Regions from separate parts of the Homo sapiens genome. Here regions 1 and 3 are each linked to region 2. The links come from fine-mapping of genetic effects on gene expression. A gene starts in region 2. Each other region holds a variant in brackets. All regions are shown on one strand. Distances are from middle to middle. Region 1 overlaps CCDC33 (coiled-coil domain containing 33). Region 2 holds the start of STOML1 (stomatin like 1). Region 3 has its middle 21 kb from the start of LOXL1.

The links. PIP is the estimated chance that this variant, and not a neighbour inherited with it, causes the effect.
Region 1: its variant is the best candidate, but not a certain one, in a credible set for the expression of STOML1 in subcutaneous fat (FUSION, PIP 0.74).
Region 3: its variant is the best candidate, but not a certain one, in a credible set for the expression of STOML1 in whole blood (Lepik 2017, PIP 0.56).

The regions. Positions count from the first base shown.
Region 1 is chr15:74,274,049-74,279,376 of GRCh38, forward strand. The region is part of intron 7 of CCDC33 (coiled-coil domain containing 33); the gene reads left to right. Among named protein-coding and RNA genes, the nearest start is that of CCDC33, 40 kb to the left of the region's middle. RefSeq lists enhancers at 2,645-3,369, 3,370-4,094. The variant GTGTC/G (reference allele first, on the strand shown) is at 2,902.
Region 2 is chr15:73,990,290-73,995,289 of GRCh38, forward strand. STOML1 (stomatin like 1) reads right to left here and starts at 2,006. Exons shown (of 7, transcript NM_004809.5): 1 at 1,802-2,006; 2 at 62-168. The coding sequence starts at 1,934. PML (PML nuclear body scaffold) reads left to right here and starts at 4,427. Exons shown (of 9, transcript NM_033238.3): 1 at 4,427-4,652. The coding sequence starts at 4,524. RefSeq lists enhancers at 1,283-1,412, 1,473-1,542, 4,840-5,000 and a silencer at 1,673-2,232.
Region 3 is chr15:73,903,241-73,908,568 of GRCh38, forward strand. It overlaps a transcript of TBC1D21 not described here. Among named protein-coding and RNA genes, the nearest start is that of LOXL1, 21 kb to the right of the region's middle. RefSeq lists a silencer at 5,144-5,263. The variant C/T (reference allele first, on the strand shown) is at 2,653.

The sequences.
Region 1 (5,328 bases), 280 kb after region 2:
CTCAAACTCCTGACCTTGTGACCTGTCCACCTCGGCCTCCCAAAGTGCTGGAATTACAGGCATGAGCCACTGCACTCAGCCGGCAGTCTTGAATTTTTAACAGAGGAAGGGTTGGTACAGGTTGGACACAGCAATAGCACAAGTGTGAGGTGGAGACAGGCAGGCTATGACCCATGTCAGGGCAGACAGGAGGGCTGTGTGTTTGAGTATGAGGTTGGGGGCGGGTGCACGCACAGAACATGGCTGGGTTCAGGGGAATAGCCAGATTGGTCTCTTCTCATGATCTGCGCTTCACTGCCAGCTTGCCCTACACGATGGTCCCAACATTCCTAGGGGCCTTGGGGGACAGAGGGATTTTTGGAGGTCCCTCCTATTGTCTGCCCACCAGTGCTTATGTCTGGCATAGCAAAAATAGAACAAGACACCCCTTTGGAGCCCAGGCTTCATTTAAAGGCAAAGACATTTGAAGAAGGCTCAGACATGGGGTAGAGTGATGGTGGTGGGGAGGAGTGGGACAAAGGGGGACCCTGGGGACAGAGGCTTCAAACCCAAACCAATCCTTTGCCTGATTTCCCTAGAGTTACCTCACACATGGCCCTGCATTTGCCCAGAAAATTAAGAACCAATCAGCAGGCTGTCCCAAGGGGCAAGAGGCACTGCCTGCTTTAATGAGTGTGCCCCCTCCCACCCCCAGGCTTTCTCTGGCTGCCTTTGCTGCCTAACTAGTCTGGGTAGGAGAGGTGCCACTCACTACAGAGACTTGTTCCCAGTGCCTTTTGCATGTGTGGGACCCGGTCCAGCAATGGCAGGACACCTGTTGAACATCACCCAACCCCATGGCAGCTGGGCCAGGTTGGGAATTTGCTGGCAGCTGGCACAGAGGTGCCCAGGTGCAGCAGTGAGAGAACAGGAGCAGGCTGCTGTGGTAAGGAGGGGTGGGGATTGCCCGGGCAGAGCCATACCTGGAGGGGCACCAGTCAGCAGCGTGAGCTCAGTCTTCACACAGACCCCTGCCCTGTTCCCTTTGAGCGTCAGTCCCCTCATCTCTACACTTGAGGGGGTGGGATTGGACTTGGTAATTTTAGGGCCTGCCCTCTCTGACATCTTGGGGGGCTGTGATTTCTCACCAACTGTCACTGTGCAAAAGCACTGTTTGACCTGGGTTTGACCCCAGCTCTGTAACTTACTGGCTGCATGACCTTTGGTAAGCTGCTCCTTTCTCCAGACTCATTGATTCCAATCTGTTAGGAGAACTCAAAGGATAATCTTTGCAAAGTGTCCAGGCCCAGGGTCCAAGGTAAATGGGTTCCACTCTTAACAGAGCTGTACCTCCCCTAGTGCCAGTGTCCCCTCTGAGGCCAGCCTCACCACTGCCCTTTTCACATCTGGCTCCAAGTAACAGAAACCCCAACTTGGATCGGCTTAAATACTAAGGATATTTATTGTCACACACCACATCAACTCACGACATAGAATGCTGCCAGAATTGGTGGATGCTCAGGCTCAGAAGCATCCTCGAGGTCTCAGGATCTTTCCAACACCCCGAATTACCATCTTCAGCTGGCTAACGGCTCATGGGGGCACTTCATCCAAATAGAATGAAAGACCAGCAGATAAGAGGCAGCCTCTCTTTTTTTTTTTGCGACCAAGTCTCTGTCCCCCAGGCTGGAGTGCAGTGGCGCAATCCTGGCTCACACTGCAACCTCTGCCTCCTGGGTTCAAGCAATTCTCCTGCCTCAGCCTCCCGAGTATCTGGGATTACAGGCGAGCGCCACCATGCCCAGCTAATTTTGTATATTTAGTAGAGATAGGGTTCAACCATGTTAACCAGGCTGATCTTGAACTCCCGACCTCTGGCGATACGCCCACCTTGGCCTCCCAAAGTGCTGGAATTACAGGCCTGAGGCACCGCACCCAGCAGCACCCTCTCTTCTTGTAGGTGGTTTTAAAGAGCAACTGGAAACCAACCTTACCCAGCCATCCCTCAGCAGACCTCCTTCCTGTCTGATTAGCCAGGATTGGGTTACATGCACTTCCCTGAGCCAATCACTAAGGAGGGGTGTGGCTCTGCCTTGCTGGTATAAATGTGGAAGGTTATGGAGGCGGAGCCACCCGAACCCAAGGGCCATCTGCTGGTGATGAGGCAAGGAGGGGCATGGTGGTGGGCTAGGTGGCCCTCAGTGGAGCCTGGTGATGATGGCAAAGGCTGAACTGGTGAGTTAAGGGGTAGATGGCCTGTCGGACTTCACCTGGTCCAGCCTGCTGGAACCAACATAGGGTGGGCCGTGTAAGTTACTCCTACCCCGGCACCTTGGAAGGGGCCCATTGCCCAACAGGCTGCTCCTGTTGTTCTGGTCTCCTACAGAGCTGGAGTGGAGCTCCGGGAAGCCATGTGTGCCCACCACCATCCCCTCCTCTCTCAGCCCCACAGCTGGCCTGTCCCCAAGCTCTCCTGGGGCCCCTTCCATCCCCACAGACCCTGCCCTAGTGCTAGCCTCCCCTCAGGCCCCTGCCATCCATTCTCTGAGGAGCAGCCAGGGCATCCCCTGCCTAGCCCTTCCCCTGGGCCCCCTGTTACTATCACGACAAGGCAAATCCCACTCTCAGCCAGGTCCACAGGCCCTGTGCCCTCCAGCCTCCTGGCTTATGGCTCCAGCTCATACAGGCATTCTGCAGCCCCACTGGACAGCTTGCTGTTCTCCACACCCACACTGCCCCTTCCCACCTCCAGCCTCCACCTCTGCTGCACTCGCAGTCTGGAATGGCCTTCCTCTTCCTTACCTACTGCCCTTGTCCTTCAGGTCCTCCCTGAGGAATGGGGTCAGAAGTCATGGCTTTCTCCTCGCACACCCCAGCTCCCACAACCACAGCTTGCTTAGGACTCTACATGTTTGTGTGTGT[GTGTC/G]TGTCTGTCTGTCTGTCTGTCTGTCCCCTATCCTCCTGGATGATGGTGGGCTACAGGGTCGGGGGCAGAGTCTGGCTCTACAGCACCCCACAGGCATCTGGAATGGAGAAGCCCCCCAGAGTCAACATTTGCTGAGTTCAGTGAAGTTGAACTTACATCTTAATAGCAAAACATCCATTGTCTCCTTTAACCTTACAACAGGCTTTCAAAGTGAGGAGTTTGAGGCATATCCCCATGGGATGATGGGAAAAGTAGGTCCCAAAGAGGAGAAGGGACTTGAAGGCCACACAGCAAGGTTGAGGCAGACCCAGACCCAGAGCCAAGGGGTCCTAGATCCCTAGAGACCCCAGCCCAGCATCTGCTCCCAGCAGCTACTCCTCCAGATGGCGGCCACTATGCCTGGGCAGAGCAGGCAGAGGTGGATGTGGGTGGGCCCAGGGGAAATAAGGCGGTGGGCGTGGAGGGGCCATGGAATGAAGGCTCTGTCCCCAGGGGAAGCAGGTCTGCCTCCATGGCTGGGGGTTAATGGCTTTTCTGAAGATCACAGCTGAGGGTTAATGACATTCCATAATTCCACTACCGCTGTGGCCCTTCCATTAGCATCTGCAGGCGATGCCTGCCTCTCCCCGCCCCCATCCTGCACACACATCAGCCACAGTACCCTCACCAGGGCTCTGGCGTCAGACTGCAGGTCTTCTAACTTTGAGTTCCCACCACTCCTGCCTGCACATGCACAAGACAGGCTGACCCTCCCTCCCCAGTCCTAGGTCTGAAGTGATCTTTCCTAAGTGACTTGCCCTGGGAAACTACTCAGGGAAAGGGCTGTTCCTTATTGGGCCGGCAGCCACTCACCACCTCTGGCTTCATAGGCTCCATTTAGACACATGAATAGGTCCCAGAAAGGGCAGCTAGCGTCTACTAAATAACCCTCTTCCAGGGTAGGAGCAAGGTATGGACGGCAGGGGACTGAGTCACAGGTGCCCCAATGCCTGGCAGACAGTCCCAGCCATGTGGACCCTCCTGCACCCAGGAGAATGGGGTGACTCTGGGAGGGACATGGTTTGGGGATCAATCTTGAAAGATCACTCCCAAGCCCCACAGAAGTCAGAACCAACTTCTCTCACCGGACCTGTTGGCCAAGCTCCCATAAGAAGTGGGATGTTCCCATCATTGCAGTCTCTGTTCAGGTGTCCAGGGCACCCTAGCCCTGCAGTGACTGCAACCCATCTCCCCAGGGGCAGGGGCAGACACAGCTGAGCCTTGGGCTGGGCCTGGACAAACCAGGCCCATTAGTGTGACCGTCATCAGCACCCTGCCACTGTGGGGAAGTGGACCTACACTGATATTTCATGATCCTGCATCAATAACTCCTGGAGCCGCAGTGCATTTGTGCTGACCTTTTCGAGCAATGACTGATTCCTGTGGGGGAGCAGGAGGTGGGAGCGGCTGCTACTGTTGCTGACAGCCCCTGGCTGGGGAACAGAGGCAAGGCAGCCACTTGGTGGGTCTGTAGCAACGACCCGCAGCCCCGCCCTGTGCTGGGACCCTGCAGGGCTGCCTGCTGGGAGTTATGGGCCGATGGCCATCTCCCATCTCCCACCTTCTGGCCTTGGCAGATGCTGGGCCTCCCCCTGGAGTCTCTCCTCATTTCAGGCGTCCTCTGCACAGGGTGTGCTCAGTGCCACTCCACATTTTTGATTGTGCTGTTTTCCCATCCTGAAGACCTTTATCCCTCTCTTCACCCAGCCAGACCTTCCTTCAGAGCCTTTCTCTGGTTCTGCTTCCTTTAAGGAGGCTTTTCTGACCACCCATGGGAATATTTCATATAGCTCTCTTATTGGGCAGTGCTACAGTTAATACTGTCTTGTTTCATTGTTTAAATCATACCCATGTGTGTGCCCTAACTGCTGACCTAGGGTGCCATCAAGTCCCCCGAGTGCCCACTGGCCCACACTGCGGGCACACGGAGCCTCTGTAGTCTGCAGAGATGTCTTGGCCTCTGCAAGGGGCTGGGGAAACTGTGTGGGAAAGAGAGGGGCTGGTGACACAGACAGAGGTCATGTCTAACTTGGCATCTGTGACACCACCAGCCATGGGTGTGAACACAGATACAACACTTTAGGAAAACAGTTTACCAATAATGAATGAGGTGTCCTAAAATACACATGTCCTATAACCCAGCAATTCCATTTTAGGTAGTTGTACTAAGGAAGTAATTTGCGACATGAAGATATGTAGCAGAGAACGTTCAATGCAGTGTTATTACAGGGAAAAATGGGAAGGAAGAAATCAGGGCACTTGGACATGAACTTCATATCCTGAAGTTACTCAAGTCATGGGTAATGAGCTTTCTGTGACTTTGGATCTGCTTAGGTTTTACTGGCAAATGAAAAATGCAGGATGCTAGAATGGTGATTATACAC
Region 2 (5,000 bases):
ATCAATGCCAAAGCTCTCAGTGTGGCCCAACCACCCTGGGGGCTGACCCAGCCAGCCTTACCTTCAGGGCAAACCAGCCAGAAATGGGGAAGGTGACCAACAGCAGCAAGAACCCCAGGAAACTGATGAGGCCATGACAGAGGCAGGAGGGCCAGCTCTGGGGTACATCTGCAGGTGAGAGCAGAGGTGGTCAACTGGACCTGCACGACAGCTGCCAAGCGGAGTGAACTTGGGCAAGTGTACCTTACGCCCACCTTCCCCTCGAGAGGCTCCTTCCTTCTCAGGGCTCTCAATCTGGCTCCTTGCCTAATATTCCCGTATCTTTGGGCAGCTGCAAGTTAGGGTCTGTTCCCTCCTCCCATACATCAACACTCATTTGTCCCAAGTCCAACAACCCTCACAAGGCCTTATTCTCTGCTAGGCAACAGCCATTCAATCTCAGAATCCAGTCCGCGTGATGATGCTCTCCTCACTGGACTGAGTAGGGGTCAATCCTCTCGTTTAATTTATATTGCCTACCCATACCTGGCATGGAGCCAGGAGCACCTGGGCATCTGTAAACATGCACTGAATACTGCTGGCAAAACACATTCCTCCTATACCATCAGCCCCAGAAGTGTGCTTTCCAGGAGTCCTTATGAAGATGATGCCTTAGCCTACAGGGATAAATCATAAATAGCTTATCAACGGGAGCCACAGATGAGGAATTAGATTATTATTTTCTATTCCACACCCAACTTTAATGCCTTAATGACCATTAAAAAATGCCTATTTCACGAGATGGCGCCACTGCACTCCAGCCTGGGGGACAGAGCGAGACTCCATCTCAAAAAAACAACAAACAACAAAAAACAAAAACAAAAAAAAACCCTGCCTATTTCAATTCAAGAAAATTGTTAGGGGTCGGGGTCAGGGGCAGGGCTAGAAAGATGAGGCTTATCCAAGCCAAATGTCCTGGCCCCTGGAGATTCAGGAGCCCAAGTTGGGAGCAAAGCCGAGACAGCTCCAGAATCTGGGATGAGGTTATTTGCCGCTTTCCTCCCAACCCTGGACAGGAAGCAGTCGGGAGCCCTGCTCCATTCTTCCAGGAAGCCCTGCCCTCTGGGCTAAGCCCCAGAGCACTGAGGCTCCACTTTGTGCCTGGCTCTGATCCACCAGGCCTCTCAAGAGACTTCTGGATAGGGAGAGCTTTCAGGACAGGAAGGCCAGGGAGGGATCAAATCCAAGGTTAGGCGGTTAGGCTGAACAGCGTGGGATCTGGCCTGTAGGCCAAAGGAGCCACAGAAGACTTTGAGGGCAAGACAGAAGCAGGGCAGATCCAACAGGCAGCTGAGGACCTGTCATTTTGGCCTGCACATCCAGGAGATGCCTAGTTCCCGGGCTTCTAGAGGTGCCCCCTAGGGCGAAAATTCTTCCATTTCCCTGCAGCAGGTGCCTTTAGGGTGCTGGTGGCCTCCTCTGCCTAGACCTCGGTTTCTTCTATGCGAAATAGAAACCTGAAACGTCTTCCCAGGCCTAAAGGGCTGATAAGAGCCGAGGACAAATGTGGTGAGGTGAGGTTTTGGAAGATAGGAGCAACGCTGGCTGGCTCTGGGGCCAAAGCCCCATGACCCTAGGGAGGGCGGATCGGCGCTAGCACCAGGCGCCGGGTCCAGCCCCCTCTCCACATCGTATCCCTTTCTCAGTCCCCCCTCGTAGGGTGCGACGGCACCGGGCCGGCCGACTCCTCGGAGGCAGAGATTCGGGCCTGGGGGTTGCCGGCCGGTCCCCCCCGGCTCCGCCGTGCCAGGCGGCCACTCACCGGCCCCTGTCCCCACGCCGCCCCGCTCCGGGGACAAGCAGCCCTTCTGCGAGCCCAGAAAGCCGAAGCTCGACTGCTGGAAGCGGTCAAAATCACCCAGGGGCAGCGCCCGGTACCCAGACCTGCCGAGCATGGCTTTTGACAGGAGACACGCCCCGCGCCTCCGCGCGGCGCCCTCCCTGGCCAGTGGGCCCTACGCGGCCCCGCCCTCCTGGCTGCTGCTTCCGGCTTCACCCGCGCGGCCACCCGCGGCGGCGCGGGCGCAGGAAGAGGAGGCCGGCCGGGGCCCGCTTCCGCCGTCGCATGGCTCCCCCTGCGCTGGGAGGACCGAACTGCAGCCCAGGGCTACTGGGTGTGATCGGCGTTCCTCGGACCCCGCTGGGGTCATCGCCTCCTCCCCTCTTCTCCTACTCAGCCCTAGAAAAGCTGGAGGGGAAGCTGGGCACGGTGGCTCACTCCTATAATCCATCAATTTGGGAGACTCAGGCAGGAGGATCGCTTGAGGCCAGGAATTCAGGACCATCCTGAGCAACATAGTGAGAGCCCATCTCTACAAAAAATTTTTAAAAATTAGCCTGGCGTGGGATGCCTGCCTGTGGTCCCAGCCACTTGGGAGGCTGAGGCGGGAGGATCTCTTGAGTCCAGGAGTTTGAGGCTGCAGTGAGCTATGATCGTGCCACTGCACTGCAGTCGGAGCGAGAGAGCAAGATCTCATCAGGGTTTACAGGAAGCCAATCTTCTCCAGGATCAAGGACATGCTATATCAGCCTTCTCAGCACTCCTTCTCTCACACTGGAGGCAGGACATGCCATATCTGGACTTTGGGTTTCTCTGGGACATAGTCTGCAAATTATTCCTCTTTGTGAACCCACAGCCCAGCAAGCAGGGACTGGCATAGGGCAGGTCTCAATACTTATTTGTTAAGTAATGGCCTGGCCAGGTCACCGTGATCAAGGTGGAGTAGGAAGGCCTGAACTTTGGCACAAAAAGAAAGAAGTTTCACATGCAGACTTCGGGGAGCATGGGAGTGTAAGGAAGAAGGGGATAGCACAGAGCTACATGAGGGCAGGGGCCCCAGAGCACCACAGAGGTGAGGCCCTCAGTCCTGCAGGTCCAGAAAGAGCATGCCCCTTGATCCAGGTACCTGGAATTAACTTGCCTCTCCAGGGCTTGAGAAAACCTGAATGCAACTCGTGAATTTCCTTTGAGAAGTGTTAACTTCCAACAGGACTTTGGGGTAGTCTGGGAGCAGGCTATCTTCCAAAGCAAGCAAAGAAATGAATAAAGCTTCCCCAGCTCTGCCTCCTCAGCCAATCGCCTCTGGCCTCCGAAGCCCCATCCTGCCATAGCCCACTTCCAGGTCCCTTGTGCAGATGGCTGCCCACCATATTTGGCTTTCATGGACTGATTCTCTAAAGGCCTGGGAGTACTGACCAGGCTGGAGGGAAGGGCAGGCTCCTGAGGCCTTACAGTCCCTAGGAAGTTGCGTATCTGCCCAACCCCTGCTCTCCACCCTGCAGACTGTAAGGTTTACAAGAGCCAGGCCCTATCATCATCCTTTCTAGTCTGTTTCTAAGTTGGAACAGAGTACGGAATGGGTACACAGGAGCCAGCACAGTGGTTGCGATGGTTTAAGTTTGAAGCCGGGGCGCTGACCCAGTGAGGTCACCTGGAACTGTGCCCCTTTCCCCTTACCAGCTGGGAGTCTGACATGCTTTTCCATTGGCGAAGACCTAGCTGGCTCTCCCCTCACCCTCTTCATACCCGCTCTCCAGCTCTCCCCCTCCCTCCTGCCCCCACCACCTCAGATCCACCAGCCTTTCCAGCTGTCACTCAAGGCATCATCCTGCTCCCTCACCTCCAGTCACTGGCTTCCCAGGATCTCTGAATCAAGTCCCTCCTCTGCATCCCACAGCCACTGTCCTAGACCAGGGCACCTGCTCCTAGGTTGTCAGAGTGACTGTCCCATCATGCACAGCTGATCGTGTTGTTCCCTGGTTCCAAATCCTTCAGCAACTTCCCATCACTCACAGAACTGGTTCAATCTCCTCAGCTAGGATCTTGTCCTAGCACACTCCTTGGGTATCATTTCTCATGAATTCCCTCTTAAATCTGAAAATGGCCAAAATTAGTTCCCAAACAGGCTTTTGCAAGAGCTATCTTTTCTGTTTCAAGTGTCCCCCGTACCCCACCACCTACAACCCTAAATCCCTGGTGAATTTCCACTGCTTTTGCAGGTCCCAGCTGTGGGCTCTCCTTTCCAGAATGTCTCCGTTTGCAGGCTTGCTCTTCCATTACATCTACGGCTCTTAGAAAGCAGGGGCTGCGTGTGGCTCATCTTTGTACGCCCAGCTCCCGGCAGGACGTGGCACGAAGCAGTGCCAGTGTGAACGGATGAATGGATCAAAGCCGGGAGCAGGGCTGCCCCCCTGCAGCTCTGCCCTACCTCTCCCGCTTTACCGTAAGTCAGCGGTAGGTCTGCAGCTCTCCGCCTCTACCTCCTCCCCGCTCTGGGCGTGTCTTTAAAACCCACAGTCGGCCTCTCTGCCCCCTAGAACCGCCCCCAGCTTCTGTCTCACTTCCTCTCCAGAGGCGGGCCCTGAGCCGGCACCTCCCCTTTCGGACAGCTCAAGGGACTCAGCCAACTGGCTCACGCCTCCCCTTCAGCTTCTCTTCACGCACTCCAAGATCTAAACCGAGAATCGAAACTAAGCTGGGGTCCATGGAGCCTGCACCCGCCCGATCTCCGAGGCCCCAGCAGGACCCCGCCCGGCCCCAGGAGCCCACCATGCCTCCCCCCGAGACCCCCTCTGAAGGCCGCCAGCCCAGCCCCAGCCCCAGCCCTACAGAGGTACTATTGGGTTAGGGGATGATGGGGTTAAGCTTTGTTGGTTTGCTGTGGTGGGGAGAGGCGGGAAGAGAGGGTCTAACGGAGGATTTGGTCAAGTACCCTAGAGAGTGACACAAAGCGGGAAGTCCAGACACCAGGGTCCTGACCGTCTCGGGTGGGGCAGGGAAGGGAGGGTAGGATAGAGTAGAAAAGAGGACACGGAGGAGTTGGGGCGGCCTCGCTGGGCTGCGGTTTCTCCACTGAGCAGTTGGGCAAGGTGAGAAGGGTCAGTGGCCTCCGGGCCTGGGCCCTTCCGCCCACCCTCGAGCCCTGCCTCAACTTTGCCTCAGATGCAGGACTTCAGATTAG
Region 3 (5,328 bases), 87 kb before region 2:
CCCATGCCTCCGGCTTCTGCATCTCTTCATGAGAGAACTATCTGGCCTTGGACCAAAACTGGCCCACATGGAATATCAGGGGGATTCACACCCCAGGAGCAGCCCTTGAAGGAAGGGCGGGGAGCTGGTGGATACACACCCCAGATTTCCCACCCCTCAATGGGACAAGTCTGAGACCTGTTCTGTACACTCAGAGGGTCCACAGGGGGCTGAACCTCAGTGTTCCACAGCAGTAGCTGCTGGGTAACTCTTATCTACCTTTTTCTCTTCCCTGTCTCACTTCCCTACTCCCTCACATGCTGCCTGGGATCATCTTCCAAACAAACAACTACACCCAAATCCTTGTCAGAAGGCCTGTTTAGTGGGGGCAGGGAACCAACCTAAGGCAACATATTCAATCATGGTACTCTCCTCAATGCCAATAAGAAAAGACCAGGCCCCTTCACTCAGTATTCAAGACCTCAGTGATCCTGCCCTCGGTCTGCCTCTTTGACACCAACTCTTACCTTTTCCAGCCTCAAATGTATATTCTGGGCTGGGCACGGTGGCTCTTGCCTGTAATCCCAGCACTTTGGGAGGCCGAGGGGCTTGAGGTGAGGAGTTCGAGACTGGCCTGGCCAACATGGTGAAACCCCTTCTCTACTAAAAATAAAAAAAGTTAGCTGGGTGTGGTGGTGTATGCCTGTAGTCCTAGCTACACAAGAGGCTGAAGCAGGAGAATCACTTGAACCTGGGAGGTGGAGGTTGCAGTGAGCTGAGATCACGCCACTGCACTCCAGCCTGGGCAACAGAGCGAGACTCCGTCTCAAAAAAATATATATATATATACTCTGGCAACACAAAATTTCTCATCTGCTTTGTGACTTAGCCCAGGCATTTCATCTAGGAAGTCTTCCTTCTAAGTCTAGAGGTCAGTGAGTCCTTGGGCTTCCTGCCCCATCCTAAGGTGAGCACTTCTATGAGTCAGCCACAAGGAAGAACTAACCAGGTTGGAGTGGGCTGTTGGCCCAAAGTCGAGCTCTATAAGGCTACAGTGGGCTGCTCTGTAGCCAGCCATGTGTGCACTCTCCCCAGCCCCCGCAGGCATGCAGGAAGCCCCTTCTTGCCTAGTGGTGTGCTGAAGTCAGCTTGCACTGGCTCAAAAGAATGAAACTTGTGCACCTCTTCCAATTCTGCATTCAGTGGCATTATGCGGGTTGTCTGAAATCGGCTATGGCAAGAGTATTTACACCACAGAAATTGGCAATTGCTACAAATCAGGGGTTTCATTTTCTTCAAAGAGTGACCATGGCCTCCCCTCCCGCCATGTGCCATAATCCTGAGTATGTCTATGGGTTCATAGTACAGGTCCCAGGTCTGAGGCAGGGCAGAATCAGCTTGGGGGAAGGGGTGTTGACTGGCAGCATGGTGCCAAGATAGATGTGGAGCCAGGGGTCAGAGTGCAGCTGGGTGAAGTGGAAACCAAAGGAGGGACGAGAGGAGCTCATGGGACTGGGGGACAAAGGCCAGGGATGTGTGTGTAGAAAAGAGAGAGACTCCAAAAGAAATGGAGAGAGACAGCAAGGAAGAGACACGGAGAGAAGAGTAAGAGAGACATGGAGACACAGACAAAACAAAACACACAGATGGAGGGAGGAAGACAGAGTGAGACAGCAAATAGAGACAGAGGCAGAAACAGAGAGCGAGAGACAGCTTGAGACTGGGAAGAAATGACAGAGTGGAGGAAGCCAAGGGCAAAAATAGAAGAATTTAGCGACAAAAACACAAACTGGAGAGTGACAAACAAAGACCGTAGCAGCAGAGGGGGCCCAGGAGGGTGCAGCCCAGGCCTAGCTGGGGCCCACGGTGCATGAGGCAGCTTGCAAGAGAGGCTCAGGGCCCACTTAGGACAAGGCCTCCCACGCCCTCTAGCCCCAGCCATCATGTGAATACCTCCTTAGGTGTCCATCAACTACTTGAAGATGTGAATGTTTGATTGCTTCTCCAATTTAGGCATTAAATCCCTCAGTAATTCAATAATGCATTGTCCAATTACTCACATGACACGCAACTTTAAATTAGGAAAAAATATTTAGACAATTCAATTGCTAAATGATCTGATTGTTTCTGAAATTCCCTCATAATGCTCCCTTGAGTTATTCTCCCTTCTTAAATCAACCTGAGAAAGGGATGTGCCGACTCAGCAGTCTGTTTCTTGGCTCTACCTGGCTGAATTCAGTACAACCTTTAGATTAGAGTCCCCGGATTCAGGCACTTTACCTTGTCCAGTGGTGTGCTGAAGTCAGCTTGCTGGAAAAAAAAGAAATTTTCACACCTTTTCTTAATTCTGCATTCAGTGACATCATGTTGATAGCTTGAAATTGGCTGTGGTGGGAGTATTTACACCATGGAAATTGGCAACTGCTACAAACCAGGGCATTTTTTTTCTTTAAAGAGCCACCACTGCCTTTATTCACCTCCCATTCTCCCACCAATCTGTGGCCCCCAGGTGGGATAAAACCCTGAGCAGATTTGTGGGTTTACAGCATTTGCTCCAGGGCCCAGCTGGGAGCCTCCCTAAAGGGGCAGAGCAGAATCAGTTGGCTTGGAGGTTTGGGAGAGTCAACTGAGCAGCATAGGACCAAGCTGGGAATTCCAGGGCCCTTCCCTGGC[C/T]TCTGTCCCAGGGATCATTGTGCCTCCCCATCAAGACAGCACAGTCTGGAACAAAGAGCTCCTGCCTGAACATTGGGAGAACTCAGGTATCACTCGGTGTCGGTCAAGGAAACCCAGGCTCTCAGCAAGGGACTGGCTCCTGGTCACCAGCAGGGTGGATGGGATGGGCATGTCTGCTGGGCTTCAGTTTCATGTCCCGTTTTTCTAAGCTGCTCACACTCAAGAGTCCCAGAAAGTTTGTTGTGCTACTTCTAAATAGAGAAAAGTTTTGTCTCCATAAATTTATACTCTCCACTGCCTTCCCAGGAAGCTGAGTTCTGGTCACAGGTGACCCTTTGTGCTGCCATCTTGAAGGAGCTGGGTAGGCAAATTAGGGACAGGAGGGGCTAGGGAAGTGGGAGACGTATGTGGGAGGAGGTCGGGGAGAGGCTGGAGAGAACTATGGAAGAAGGATTTCATGTGTCTCCGTGGGGTATGAGACCATCTTCTGAATCTTCCCACCCAAATTGTCAGTATACTCAACCTTGCTCCCTGATGTCTTTGAGTGAATGGAATCTGGAGTGGAGAGGGTGGTGGCAGTTTGGAAAGAAGGATGAGGGACCAGCCCCACTGGTTACATGTGGAGAGGACAAGGTACACGGAGGAGGAAGGCAGGCCTGGCAGAGCTCAGATATCTGTGGGAGGAGGAGGCAGGTTCTTGCCTCTCTCTTCCTCTGGGAAGCAGCTTGTTTGGGAAATCCAAGCCCAAGTCCATCCAGGGCAAGTGCCTCGATTTTCCCTTGAGAGGAAGAAAAGGGCTTTCCTGACCCAGGAGGAGGAGAAGACTGAGGTCAAGTCAATCAAAGGGACAAAGCTAACCCCTATGCCATCAAGAATGTATGTGCAGTGCTGAGTACTATTTTTTGGATCTGAGTTGTGCTGAGTGTTGGTTTACAGAGCTCCAGAACCCCCAAGTGTAGAATGACTCATTCACCGATGTCATGTGTGTAGAGAAGAGATCTGCAAGCCTGGAAGATTCACCTCTTCAGGCTCTTGTTCTCTGTCCCACCAGCCTAGTAATATGGGCAGGTCTTAACTTTATAAAGAGGCCCCACCAACCACAATTCCATGCAAAGCTTGCTGCAGAGACCCAACTCTGAGGGTAAGGACCCCAGGCCAGACAGCAGACAACTGGGCATCTCTCTTTCTCTCTCATTTCCTCCTCCTCCTTCTCCTCCTCTTCCTCTTCTTCCTCTTCCTCCTCCTGCTCCTCCTCCTCTTTTTTTCCCCCAGTCTGAGCCCTCACTCCCCACCAGCTAACTAGCCCAGAGCAAGCAGCTAAATATAGTTCCTTATTCTTTGACTCGTAGAAATCAGCCACAAACTGTCTGTCAACATGAATTTCTCAGCTCAGTTGTTCTAGCCATGAGCAGCTGCTGCTCCTGATACTTCACCGGGCTGCTCTCAAGTTCATCTTTGGTGGGGTCTGCATGGAAGGAAAACACAAATTTGAGAGGGCAGCTTTAGAAAGTGTGAAACGGGCATAGACTTTGAAATTGGAGAGACAGGAACCAAATCTTAGCTTGACCACTTCCTAGCTGTGTGATCCTCTGCTGGCTCAATTATTGAGCTCTTACTTAGATTCTGGGAGATGCTCTAAGATCTTTCCAATAAATTCTCATTTTTGCTCAGGCTAATGTGAGTTGGGCTTCTGTCACTTGCAAGCTGAATAAGAACTTGCTTCTCAACCCCTTGGGTCCTCTGCTGATGGCCTCTTCCATCCATCCTCACTCACATGTTCCATTCCCACATTTTGTAATCTCTTACCCCTAAAAAGTTCCAAAGCTGTTTTCTTTCTCTTTTACTTTTAAGAAAGATTTTTTTCAAGTGTAACACACTTACTGTATAGTCTCAATTTGTTGGGGTATAGACGTGAAATTGTTTTCTAACTTCCCTGAGCCTCACTGTCTTCATCTGTACAATGGGACTACTATTGCCTGGCTCACAGGACTGCTAGTACGGTCAACCAGGAGCCTAGATGGAAAGCTTCTAGCCCAGGCCTGTAACAGTGGGAGGGCTGGGTAGCTGTCCATTCCTCTCCCTATGTGGAAAGTTATTCTTTACCTATCAAACAGTAGAACAGAGGCTAGAATTATAATGCCTGCCCCCAGAAAGTGGCTTTATTGAGATGTACAAAATATTCTACATTAATTTTTATTTCATTCTCACATTTATTGAGATGAACAAAATCAGTGTTATGGATTGTTATAGACACAGTATCTGTCCCTGTGCCCTGACCCTGACTGTGGGGCTGTCAAATGTGCTTCCTGGGGAACCAGATACACCAGACACACCACACACACACATAAACACACACAGGAACACATGAAGCCAAGCAAATTCAGAGACAATTTGATGAGTGTAACACACACACAGGAGGGTATATGCACATTTGTGAGTGCACTGCAGGCCCATGGCTGGATGAAGCATGGGAAATGGGGGAATCCACAGGGCGCACGTAGCCCGCCAGTCCTGGCTCTCAGCGCTCTCCTTCTGGGCCAGGCCTGGGCCATGCTTGTGTTGAGAGGCTTTGGCGCCCTCTGCTGACTGCGGTCCTCCCTGCAGCCCTCTCCAACCTAGCCAGAGCAGGTGCAGCAGGCCCAGGGAAGCCAGGCGTCTAGGAAGGGGGAAAACCAG